Regions from separate parts of the Homo sapiens genome. Here regions 2 and 3 are each reported to be linked to region 1. The links are microRNA targets in miRTarBase. Many come from high-throughput screens and were not tested one by one. Region 1 holds a microRNA gene; each other region holds the end of a gene's coding sequence.

Region 1 (4,196 bases):
TGCACACCATGAATCTGTCCCGTCCTCCCTGTGCCTAGCCACGCATCCGCAGACCCCCACCACCCCTCCAGAGCCTGCTGTGGACGGCTCTTCTGAGCTTTGGGGCAGCTGCTCTGACCTCACTTTTCTCACCTGGAAAACCCTCATCCACAGGGAGACTTTGCCCAGGCTGCCCAGCAGCTGTGGCTGGCCCTGCGGGCACTGGGCCGGCCCCTGCCCACCTCCCACCTGGACCTGGCTTGTAGCCTCCTCTGGAACCTCATCCGTCACCTGCTGCAGCGTCTCTGGGTGGGCCGCTGGCTGGCAGGCCGGGCAGGGGGCCTGCAGCAGGACTGTGCTCTGCGAGTGGATGCTAGCGCCAGCGCCCGAGACGCAGCCCTGGTCTACCATAAGCTGCACCAGCTGCACACCATGGGTAGGACTGAGCGTGGGGCGGGCTCCGAGGTGCTCCCTGCTGCCTGTGCTCCACCCACAGCCTCATGCCTGCTTGCCTTCCAGGGAAGCACACAGGCGGGCACCTCACTGCCACCAACCTGGCGCTGAGTGCCCTGAACCTGGCAGAGTGTGCAGGGGATGCCGTGTCTGTGGCGACGCTGGCCGAGATCTATGTGGCGGCTGCATTGAGAGTGAAGACCAGTCTCCCACGGGCCTTGCATTTTCTGACAGTGAGTGGGTTGGGGGGCTGGGGGCTTATCCCTGCAGCTCTCTCCAGAGGCTCCCTGGGTAAGAGCTACACGGGATGTGGCAGTGGTTACCAGGGGGACTCCAGGCCAAGCTGGGACTCGGCCCGGGGTCTGGCCCCAGGCTGTGTCCACTGTGACAGCCCAGTACCCTCCCCTACAGCGCTTCTTCCTGAGCAGTGCCCGCCAGGCCTGCCTGGCACAGAGTGGCTCAGTGCCTCCTGCCATGCAGTGGCTCTGCCACCCCGTGGGCCACCGTTTCTTCGTGGATGGGGACTGGTCCGTGCTCAGTACCCCATGGGAGAGCCTGTACAGCTTGGCCGGGAACCCAGGTGCTCTCTTACCCCTTCCCTGTCCCCTCTCCTGTCCCTCATCCTCATTCCTGTCCTGTCCCTTGTCGCCTGAATCTCTGGCTGTCTCTGGCCACCCCAGTCCTTCTCCCTGCCATGGGTTGTTGCTGTGGGGGTTGCAGGAAGGGAAAGGCCTGGGTGCCTCTCGTTCCCATTGGGGCTTTCAGAAGCACATGCAGGGATTGATGGGCAGATGGCTAATTGGAGAAGTGACCCCAGGCAGTGCCGCTGTGGAGTAAGGAAGCGGAGCCAACAATGGCATCTTCTCAAGTCGGTTTTCCTTTGGAAGCAGTGTAGGGCAGGCCTCAGTGTTGTCTCCTGGCCAAGGCTGGTGCTGGTGATAGTTATGTCCACCCGCTTTCCCCTGTCCTTGGCAGGGGCTGCACCCAGGGGCATGCCGGCACTTCCCAGTGGCCCTAGGTGTGGCCCCAGCCCACCCAGGAAAAAGCCCTTAGCTTGGAGAGGAGGGTGGGGCCCTGCTCCCCACCCCACTCACCTCCTCCTCTCCACAGTGGACCCCCTGGCCCAGGTGACTCAGCTATTCCGGGAACATCTCTTAGAGCGAGCACTGAACTGTGTGACCCAGCCCAACCCCAGCCCTGGGTCAGCTGATGGGGACAAGTAAGTGTCGTTGTGCCCTCCTCCAGGCAAGGCCCCTCCGGCGGGATTCTGAGAATAGCTCTGGCCTCAACCCTGTGGAGAGAGCCCAGAGCTGGGCTACCGTGCGTGCCATGCACGCTTCATTCCTCTCTGAGTTTCCTCTCCCCACCAGCCTGTGGGAGGAGACAGTGGCACTTTGCAGAGCCAGGGGCCAGGCTGTACTCTGGAGGGCAGGTGGGGAGCACCCTCCTAGGACCCCTGCCATCTGTTCCGACAGCCAGCTCTCTCCTTCCACAGGGAATTCTCGGATGCCCTCGGGTACCTGCAGCTGCTGAACAGCTGTTCTGATGCTGCGGGGGCTCCTGCCTACAGCTTCTCCATCAGTTCCAGCATGGCCACCACCACCGGTGAGTCCCCGGCCCCTGTCCTGGCTCCCTTCTCAGCTCCCCCGTGCAGCGTGACTGAGGGTTCAGGGGACCCTCCCTCTTCTGCAGGCGTAGACCCGGTGGCCAAGTGGTGGGCCTCTCTGACAGCTGTGGTGATCCACTGGCTGCGGCGGGATGAGGAGGCGGCTGAGCGGCTGTGCCCGCTGGTGGAGCACCTGCCCCGGGTGCTGCAGGAGTCTGAGTGAGTGCACGGCAGGTTCCTCCTGCCTGGTCCCGGGCTCAGCCTTCCTCATCCCCTGGGCACTGTGCCTCACTCAGCCTTTGTTCTGTGCAGGAGGAGTCACCACCTTTTTTCCTCAGGGAACTCGAGCCAGGGAAGTGGGGGGCACTCAGCCAGGGCTTGTGGACTGGTCTGACTGGCACTCTTCTGCCCTGGTCCCAACAGGAGACCCCTGCCCAGGGCAGCTCTGCACTCCTTCAAGGCTGCCCGGGCCCTGCTGGGCTGTGCCAAGGCAGAGTCTGGTCCAGCCAGCCTGACCATCTGTGAGAAGGCCAGTGGGTACCTGCAGGACAGCCTGGCTACCACACCAGCCAGCAGCTCCATTGACAAGGTGAGGGGTGGGGTCAGGGGCCTGGCAGGGCTGGGGGATTCAGCTTTCCATTCCCTGGTTCCTCTCCCCAGCCCCCAGGGGCTGCAGAAGACCATGGGGTTAGCCCAAGCAGCACAGGATAGGGGGTCCAGCAGACCCTGCTTTTTGGCTAAGGCTTCTGTCCAGAGGAGAGGGGTTGCCCCTATCTGGCCTCAGTTTCCCCATCCCTGGGAGGAGGGGGGTGGATGGTGTGGTAGGATCCCTTTGGAGGCCCTGCATCAGGAGGGCTGGACAGCTGCTCCCGGGCCGGTGGCGGGTGTGGGGGCCGAGAGAGGCGGGCGGCCCCGCGGTGCATTGCTGTTGCATTGCACGTGTGTGAGGCGGGTGCAGTGCCTCGGCAGTGCAGCCCGGAGCCGGCCCCTGGCACCACGGGCCCCCATCCTGCCCCTCCCAGAGCTGGAGCCCTGGTGACCCCTGCCCTGCCTGCCACCCCCAGGCCGTGCAGCTGTTCCTGTGTGACCTGCTTCTTGTGGTGCGCACCAGCCTGTGGCGGCAGCAGCAGCCCCCGGCCCCGGCCCCAGCAGCCCAGGGCACCAGCAGCAGGCCCCAGGCTTCCGCCCTTGAGCTGCGTGGCTTCCAACGGGACCTGAGCAGCCTGAGGCGGCTGGCACAGAGCTTCCGGCCCGCCATGCGGAGGGTGAGTGCCCGATGGCCCTGTCCTCAAGACGGGGAGTCAGGCAGTGGTGGAGATGGAGAGCCCTGAGCCTCCACTCTCCTGGCCCCCAGGTGTTCCTACATGAGGCCACGGCCCGGCTGATGGCGGGGGCCAGCCCCACACGGACACACCAGCTCCTCGACCGCAGTCTGAGGCGGCGGGCAGGCCCCGGTGGCAAAGGAGGTGAGGGGGCAGCTGCTGACCAGGGATGTGCTGTCTGCTCAGCAGGGAAGGGCGCACATGGGATGTGATACCAAGGGAGGCTGTGTGTGTGTCAGACGGGACAGACAGGCCTGGCGCAGTGGCTCACACCTAGCACTTTGGGAGGCTCAGTTGGGAGGACAGCTTGAGCCCAGGAGTTGGAGGCCGCAGTGAGCCTGAGTGACAGGGAGAGTCCCTGTCTCAAAAAAAAAAAAAGACCAAGCATCTTCTTGATGGTTACCTGATGACAATTCCTTTCACAAGGAATCAGTGGGGTGACTGTCATTTGTGGGATACATGACTGCACGTGCGTGACTCAGTCTGTGGACTTTGTGTGTGGGCTGAGACTAGGGTGGGGAGAGGGGAACCCGCCAGGCCCCCGCCAGGTACCTGTGTGCCAGGTACAGGCGGCTGGTGCCGTGGCTTGTGTGTGGGCAGGGCTCCCGCGGGGGCGTGGCCAGCTTGAGACCCATCCCTGACACATCCTCGTGTGCGCAGGCGCGGTGGCGGAGCTGGAGCCGCGGCCCACGCGGCGGGAGCACGCGGAGGCCTTGCTGCTGGCCTCCTGCTACCTGCCCCCCGGCTTCCTGTCGGCGCCCGGGCAGCGCGTGGGCATGCTGGCTGAGGCGGCGCGCACACTCGAGAAGCTTGGCGATCGCCGGCTGCTGCACGAC
Region 2 (4,173 bases), not on the chromosome of region 1:
TGGAAAAATAGAACTAGAATAAAGAATGAGCAAGTTGAGTGGTATTTATAAAGGTCCATCTTAATCTTTTAACAGGTATTTGTGAACTTTGCCAAGGACCAAAGTGATGATGACCACTTAAAAGACCTCTCATTACACAAAAACCAGACAGTAGTGGACGTTGCAGTTCTCACATCTTTTCTACAGGATGAGAAAGTGAAAGAAAGCTATGTATGAAGAATCCTGTTCATACGGGGTGGCTGAAAGTAAAGAGGAACTAGACTTTCCTTTGCACCATGTGAAGTGTTGTGGAGAAAAGAGCCAGAAGTTGATGTGGGAAGAAGTAAACTGGATACTGTACTGATACTATTCAATGCAATGCAATTCAATGCAATGAAAACAAAATTCCATTACAGGGGCAGTGCCTTTGTAGCCTATGTCTTGTATGGCTCTCAAGTGAAAGACTTGAATTTAGTTTTTTACCTATACCTATGTGAAACTCTATTATGGAACCCAATGGACATATGGGTTTGAACTCACACTTTTTTTTTTTTTTTTGTTCCTGTGTATTCTCATTGGGGTTGCAACAATAATTCATCAAGTAATCATGGCCAGCGATTATTGATCAAAATCAAAAGGTAATGCACATCCTCATTCACTAAGCCATGCCATGCCCAGGAGACTGGTTTCCCGGTGACACATCCATTGCTGGCAATGAGTGTGCCAGAGTTATTAGTGCCAAGTTTTTCAGAAAGTTTGAAGCACCATGGTGTGTCATGCTCACTTTTGTGAAAGCTGCTCTGCTCAGAGTCTATCAACATTGAATATCAGTTGACAGAATGGTGCCATGCGTGGCTAACATCCTGCTTTGATTCCCTCTGATAAGCTGTTCTGGTGGCAGTAACATGCAACAAAAATGTGGGTGTCTCCAGGCACGGGAAACTTGGTTCCATTGTTATATTGTCCTATGCTTCGAGCCATGGGTCTACAGGGTCATCCTTATGAGACTCTTAAATATACTTAGATCCTGGTAAGAGGCAAAGAATCAACAGCCAAACTGCTGGGGCTGCAAGCTGCTGAAGCCAGGGCATGGGATTAAAGAGATTGTGCGTTCAAACCTAGGGAAGCCTGTGCCCATTTGTCCTGACTGTCTGCTAACATGGTACACTGCATCTCAAGATGTTTATCTGACACAAGTGTATTATTTCTGGCTTTTTGAATTAATCTAGAAAATGAAAAGATGGAGTTGTATTTTGACAAAAATGTTTGTACTTTTTAATGTTATTTGGAATTTTAAGTTCTATCAGTGACTTCTGAATCCTTAGAATGGCCTCTTTGTAGAACCCTGTGGTATAGAGGAGTATGGCCACTGCCCCACTATTTTTATTTTCTTATGTAAGTTTGCATATCAGTCATGACTAGTGCCTAGAAAGCAATGTGATGGTCAGGATCTCATGACATTATATTTGAGTTTCTTTCAGATCATTTAGGATACTCTTAATCTCACTTCATCAATCAAATATTTTTTGAGTGTATGCTGTAGCTGAAAGAGTATGTACGTACGTATAAGACTAGAGAGATATTAAGTCTCAGTACACTTCCTGTGCCATGTTATTCAGCTCACTGGTTTACAAATATAGGTTGTCTTGTGGTTGTAGGAGCCCACTGTAACAATACTGGGCAGCCTTTTTTTTTTTTTTTTTAATTGCAACAATGCAAAAGCCAAGAAAGTATAAGGGTCACAAGTCTAAACAATGAATTCTTCAACAGGGAAAACAGCTAGCTTGAAAACTTGCTGAAAAACACAACTTGTGTTTATGGCATTTAGTACCTTCAAATAATTGGCTTTGCAGATATTGGATACCCCATTAAATCTGACAGTCTCAAATTTTTCATCTCTTCAATCACTAGTCAAGAAAAATATAAAAACAACAAATACTTCCATATGGAGCATTTTTCAGAGTTTTCTAACCCAGTCTTATTTTTCTAGTCAGTAAACATTTGTAAAAATACTGTTTCACTAATACTTACTGTTAACTGTCTTGAGAGAAAAGAAAAATATGAGAGAACTATTGTTTGGGGAAGTTCAAGTGATCTTTCAATATCATTACTAACTTCTTCCACTTTTTCCAGAATTTGAATATTAACGCTAAAGGTGTAAGACTTCAGATTTCAAATTAATCTTTCTATATTTTTTAAATTTACAGAATATTATATAACCCACTGCTGAAAAAGAAAAAAATGATTGTTTTAGAAGTTAAAGTCAATATTGATTTTAAATATAAGTAATGAAGGCATATTTCCAATAACTAGTGATATGGCATCGTTGCATTTTACAGTATCTTCAAAAATACAGAATTTATAGAATAATTTCTCCTCATTTAATATTTTTCAAAATCAAAGTTATGGTTTCCTCATTTTACTAAAATCGTATTCTAATTCTTCATTATAGTAAATCTATGAGCAACTCCTTACTTCGGTTCCTCTGATTTCAAGGCCATATTTTAAAAAATCAAAAGGCACTGTGAACTATTTTGAAGAAAACACAACATTTTAATACAGATTGAAAGGACCTCTTCTGAAGCTAGAAACAATCTATAGTTATACATCTTCATTAATACTGTGTTACCTTTTAAAATAGTAATTTTTTACATTTTCCTGTGTAAACCTAATTGTGGTAGAAATTTTTACCAACTCTATACTCAATCAAGCAAAATTTCTGTATATTCCCTGTGGAATGTACCTATGTGAGTTTCAGAAATTCTCAAAATACGTGTTCAAAAATTTCTGCTTTTGCATCTTTGGGACACCTCAGAAAACTTATTAACAACTGTGAATATGAGAAATACAGAAGAAAATAATAAGCCCTCTATACATAAATGCCCAGCACAATTCATTGTTAAAAAACAACCAAACCTCACACTACTGTATTTCATTATCTGTACTGAAAGCAAATGCTTTGTGACTATTAAATGTTGCACATCATTCATTCACTGTATAGTAATCATTGACTAAAGCCATTTGTCTGTGTTTTCTTCTTGTGGTTGTATATATCAGGTAAAATATTTTCCAAAGAGCCATGTGTCATGTAATACTGAACCACTTTGATATTGAGACATTAATTTGTACCCTTGTTATTATCTACTAGTAATAATGTAATACTGTAGAAATATTGCTCTAATTCTTTTCAAAATTGTTGCATCCCCCTTAGAATGTTTCTATTTCCATAAGGATTTAGGTATGCTATTATCCCTTCTTATACCCTAAGATGAAGCTGTTTTTGTGCTCTTTGTTCATCATTGGCCCTCATTCCAAGCACTTTACGCTGTCTGTAATGGGATCTATTTTTGCACTGGAATATCTGAGAATTGCAAAACTAGACAAAAGTTTCACAACAGATTTCTAAGTTAAATCATTTTCATTAAAAGGAAAAAAGAAAAAAAATTTTGTATGTCAATAACTTTATATGAAGTATTAAAATGCATATTTCTATGTTGTAATATAATGAGTCACAAAATAAAGCTGTGACAGTTCTGTTGGTCTACAGAAATTTACTTTTGTGCATTTGTGGCACCACCTACTGTTGAAGGGTTATAAAGCCATTAGAAAAGTAGAGGGGAAGTGATTTGGATCAAAAGGAAAAACTTTAGAAAAGATTCAAATGTTCCCTTAATCATAAAAGAGAACTGAGGGGACTACTTGAAAATAAAAGGTTGTTTTGTATTTTCATGTTGGTTAAGATACTGAGTAACTGGTATTAAGTGTTAGAGGTTTTTAGATAAATATTCTGCTTAATGATTATGAAGCTGCACTGAGATTTCTGAAAATGCTCTGTAGCTGAGCTTATTTAATAAATGTTCACTTGGTATAGGGGAAGCTACAAAGGCAGCCTTCAGTGTCCTTTTGTTTATTCAACCAAAAATATAAGGACACAATGTAGCAGTTATACTGGGAAGGTGCTGGGGGTGGTGGCAATGGTGAGCAGGAAGGCGAAGTAGATATGGAAACAGAAATGATACTAATATCGGTGATTCCTTCCTTTTTTCCTGTAATAAGTGCTGTGCAGACAACATATGAGCAGTGCTGATAAATGTAAATGTATTTTTCATAGCTCATTAAGAATCAGTTTCAGAAAGAGATGTCTGCTTATTTTGCTACTTGAAGAATCCCTGTCAAACAGTCCTTTTGAGGAAG
Region 3 (4,185 bases), not on the chromosome of region 1:
TTCCACAAAGTAACCTCCCCACCCTCAAACTCACATGTATGCAGTTGTATATTGAACACAGAAAAGAATTTTGTTGGCAACCATTTTACTTTGAACATGGTATAGGGAATGAAATATTCTTTTAAACAGAATCTGGGTACCACTAGTTGATGTGTTGGTTGCTTTTAGGGAACTGGATGTGTGTATGGGGGAGAGGTATAAAGAGGGCTCAGCCGTGTCATAGCCACTGCTATCCTAATTTATTGAGTCCTCATAATTGGTTATAAATTCATTTGTTTAGCCAAGTTACGAGGAAACAGAGACATGTATACTTCTCCTCAGCTCTAGCTGAAGGTAAAAGATGACTCTTTGTGTGTCATTAAGTTAGACCTTTGCTTTCTGCCCATCCTTACTACGTAAGACTCTCTTCACGGATTACTTGGCCTGCCTCATGTTATGTCAAAGAGCCTTATGTTTTTCTGTATTTATTCATAAGTCAGATATAACTTGCTCTTTAAGGGAAAACAAAATTGTCACCTAAAAGCCTAGCTGGAGTGATACAGGATGGTGACTATCTGATCGGTAAAGGGTGGCACCAAATAAATGCCACTAATTGTTTGAAAGATTAGATGTCTCGCAGCTGCTTAATAAGATGTAATAATAACATCATTGCACAATAAGAAAATCTACCAAGGATGAATGAAATGATTTCATTGTGGACACTTGTGATTTATAATAGCATGTTTAAATTTGGCACATTTTGATCATAATCATGATACCTATATGTATTTTATTGCAGGGAATGGAATATGTAGCTGTGGAAACTGTGAATGCTGGGATGGATGGAATGGAAATGCATGTGAAATCTGGCTTGGCTCAGAATATCCTTAACAATTACATGAGAGAGGTCTGGATTCTTATTTTTTCTGGGCCATTAGAACAGATAAATGCGAAGGAAACCATGTATATTCACCACTAGGACAGGTTAAAAAGACCATTGTATGTTTTTCTATTTCTGAATTACGAATGAAATCCGAGTACCTATTAGAAATGAGTTATGCAAATTTAGATGCAAATAACATTAGAAAAAAAAGATTCTTCCATAATTAACATAAGTGGTTCCTAACGAGAGCAATTTTTCCACCCAAAAGTCATTTGGCAACATCTACAGACAATTTTGATTGTCACACTGGGTCGGGTAGGAAGGTATGCTGCAGACATTTGGTGGGTAGAGGCCAGGGATGCTGCTGAGCATCCCGCAGTGTACAGGACAGCCCCCAAACAAGGAATTATCCAGCCCCAAATGCCAATAGGGCTCAAACTGAGAAACATTGAGTTATATGGCTATTAGAAATCCACATTCTTACACAAGAAAGACCATATTAGAATCTAAGGAAAACATGCATATTCACATTAATTAATCGATCAGATTTTTCCAGAATTCCGTATCAGTCACCATTTTAATATGGGGACAATGAAGACAAGCACACAGGAGGTAGAATATCAGAGTGGGGCTGGATCAAGGGCAAAAACTGGTCATTAAGTCATCTGACATTAAATCATTTAGCCACTAAGTTATTTGTCTACTCTCACTTTAAACTCACCAAAGAAGATTCTCTTAAAGAAATTATGAAAAATGTACAATTTAACATTTTAAATAAATAGTGACAGAAGTTGTTTATACTCTGTGTCAGTATATATATCTACTGATAATTAAAAATGAATTGTTATTCAGGGATATCTATTTTAGGTTTCTAGAAATAAGGGATCACATTTTTAAAACTGGGCAGGGGTTATGCGTACAAGAAATCTGATTTTTTATTTTAATTTATTCCATGGTAGTGTGGCCTTTTAAAAAGACAATATTGAGTTACATATAAAATGGGCCTGAAGTATGCATCCATTTCCCTTAAAATACTTTTTTTTCTAAGGATACCTTACTTACTGGAAACCTGGGGTCATGCAAAGAAGTCAAGACGAGAAATACTGTGATAAAATGGCACCAATCTCAGAAGCTCACAAAAGACCAAAAAAAAAAAAAAATCTAGAAATGGCTTAAATAGAAATTACAAATATTCACTCAGTGATAGGAACAAAATGTTTATTTTCTTAATGGTGAAACTTTGCTTTGTATGAAATTCACATTGAATTATGAAAGTGTACAATAATTGGGACTTCCCTTACATATTTACAGGTAAATCTACTTATACACATTAGTTTAGGCAACCTTTAATTATTTAGAGCTAAAAAAAAAACCACTTTTTTTCTAAAGGTGAATTACTTTGTAAAATCCTAGAATAATGTAGCAAAATCATTTCCGTATTACTTTAAGATGAAAATTTTTACTTGGAAATTTTATTTTAATGATGTAAATATTCTAGTCATGGCTTAAACTTTATAAGTCAAATTTCCAAAAATAAGGAAAATATGCATCCACTGAGTTACTTAAAAATTTAATATTGAAAATTATTTTAAGAGAACATTTAACTGATCCTGATTTTTATAGTACTAACAATGTTCTCATAATGTAATAGATTTATAAAAATTGTTATCTCTATCCTGAGATTAAGGAGTGCAACCATGTTGTAGTTCTATTATTGAGTACGTAAATTGATAGATCTCTTCCGTAAAATGAGGGAAATATAAGTAGTCAATAAATAATGTAGGTTATATTCTTTCCTCTTCACTACCTAAACATTTTAAGCTGTGAACAACCTATTATTATTGTTTTGTAGCAATTTTGATGACGTATTCGCTGATGCACAGACATTGGAATTCATTACATTATCTAGCCATCGTAATACAAATGACCTTTGGATTTCTCTATCACGGCGCTTATCCTCCTATTAAGGATCAGAAAGTTAAACTTTACGGACCACGTACGTCCCTGTCTCATATTCTTCTTTGTTGGTTTCTGTTTAATACTTTAAAGCTGTAAAAAAAATTTAAAAAATTCCTTCTGAGCTCCCAGGCCATACAAAAGCAACTTAAGGGTGGATTTGGCTGGCAGCTGGGCAGTACTTTGTCAGCCTCAGCTCCACTGGAACTGCCCTTGATTCTCTATAGCTCATCACAAAACCTCAGGTATGTCTTATTTTTCTTATAATCCTCTGTATGTTATTATCCTTTTTATTAACAACAACAACTACAACAAAAGTGCTGCTCTTTTTCATAGTCTCATGTAAGAAGAGTGTCAAAAATGTCCTCGGCATTTGTTTTCTCAGAAAAAGAATTTAGATATTGGAGAAATTATCATACCATAAAAAGTTCAAAATGTGATTCATCTAAAATTTTGGACAAAGATGAAAATATAGTCAGCTCTGTTCTAGTGTTCATTTAGTTAGAAACCATAGTACCGGAACTGTATTATAGTAGAAGTTAATGGTACCTAAACTCTAAGGAATGCTTTTTCTTTGAAAACAGAAATATTTTTACTTATTTCTGTCCACTATGTTTGTGTGTATGTGTGTGTTTGTGTGTGTATGTGTGGTTTTGATGCCAGCAATGCAAACACCAATATATCTATTAAGAAGTGATTGAATTTAGATTGGAAAAAATAAAATAGTTACATGTAAAGACATAAACTCTTTCCTTCTTAAATGTGATTTTCAACTCTATGATAGAAACTCCCTCTAAAAAACAAGCAGGGCAAGAACAAACTTACTTGTAATGGGTGAGAGAAAATAAGCAAATCTCATTGGCTCATTCCTGTTTTTAGGAAGTTGCAGTGGGATTAATGTCAATTGGAAGGGATGCAGCAAGTTTAGAGAAGGTGTTGGCACTAACGCTGCTTGTTTGGCAAATCATCATCACTGAGGTATTCCACCCAGAGACTTTTTCAAAAAAGTCAACTAAAGTGCTAAGTCATAAGAGGAGAGCCATTATACCCGTTGTCTTTCTGGGCTCCTTGAGTTTATCTGGATTCCAACAGCACTTGGAAAGTACCGCCCTCCACTACCTCAAATGCAAACACAATCTCTGCCAGTAGACATTGGAATTAGACTTAGTGAAAACCAGGAAAAAAAAAAAAAACTAAAATATAACTCAGCCTTAGTTTGCAGACTCAACTGTCAACACTTTGAAACCCTACTCCATATTCAAGAGAGTCAACAGGCCCTATGTCACATTGTAGGCTAAGAAACCTCAGCTATGACTACTATTTCACTCAAAGTAAGACCATGTACATCCTGGATTTTGATATGCCTG

The links. Region 1 holds the annotated microRNA hsa-miR-33b-5p (GUGCAUUGCUGUUGCAUUGC, at 2,956-2,975, shown strand). A microRNA usually pairs through its seed, bases 2 to 8, with sites in the 3' UTR of a target mRNA and lowers its output. Matches are read on the target gene's strand: a 7mer-m8 pairs with bases 2 to 8, a 7mer-A1 pairs with bases 2 to 7 and ends in A, and an 8mer does both.
Region 2: miRTarBase lists ABCA1 as a target of hsa-miR-33b-5p. Seed matches in the 3' UTR shown: 8mer at 351-358, 8mer at 356-363, 8mer at 366-373 and 8mer at 1,691-1,698.
Region 3: miRTarBase lists ITGBL1 as a target of hsa-miR-33b-5p. The part of its 3' UTR that is shown has no 7-base or 8-base seed match.

Annotation. Positions count from the first base shown.
Region 1 is chr17:17,812,676-17,816,871 of GRCh38, reverse strand. MIR33B (microRNA 33b) reads left to right here and starts at 2,941; the gene lies at 2,941-3,036. SREBF1 (sterol regulatory element binding transcription factor 1) reads left to right here. Exons shown (of 19, transcript NM_004176.5): 10 at 154-415; 11 at 499-665; 12 at 844-1,012; 13 at 1,543-1,651; 14 at 1,928-2,037; 15 at 2,125-2,257; 16 at 2,462-2,627; 17 at 3,103-3,303; 18 at 3,393-3,504; 19 at 4,021-4,196. MIR6777 (microRNA 6777) reads left to right here and starts at 3,327; the gene lies at 3,327-3,392. RefSeq lists an enhancer at 3,557-4,115.
Region 2 is chr9:104,780,358-104,784,530 of GRCh38, reverse strand. ABCA1 (ATP binding cassette subfamily A member 1) reads left to right here. Exons shown (of 50, transcript NM_005502.4): 50 at 76-3,525. The coding sequence ends at 216. It also overlaps a transcript of NIPSNAP3B not described here. Among named protein-coding and RNA genes, the nearest start is that of NIPSNAP3B, 18 kb to the right of the region's middle.
Region 3 is chr13:101,714,785-101,718,969 of GRCh38, forward strand. It overlaps ITGBL1 (integrin subunit beta like 1), which reads left to right. Exons shown (of 11, transcript NM_004791.3): 11 at 779-1,662. The coding sequence ends at 870. FGF14 (fibroblast growth factor 14) reads right to left here. Exons shown (of 5, transcript NM_004115.4): 5 at 1-4,185. Among named protein-coding and RNA genes, the nearest start is that of FGF14, 200 kb to the right of the region's middle.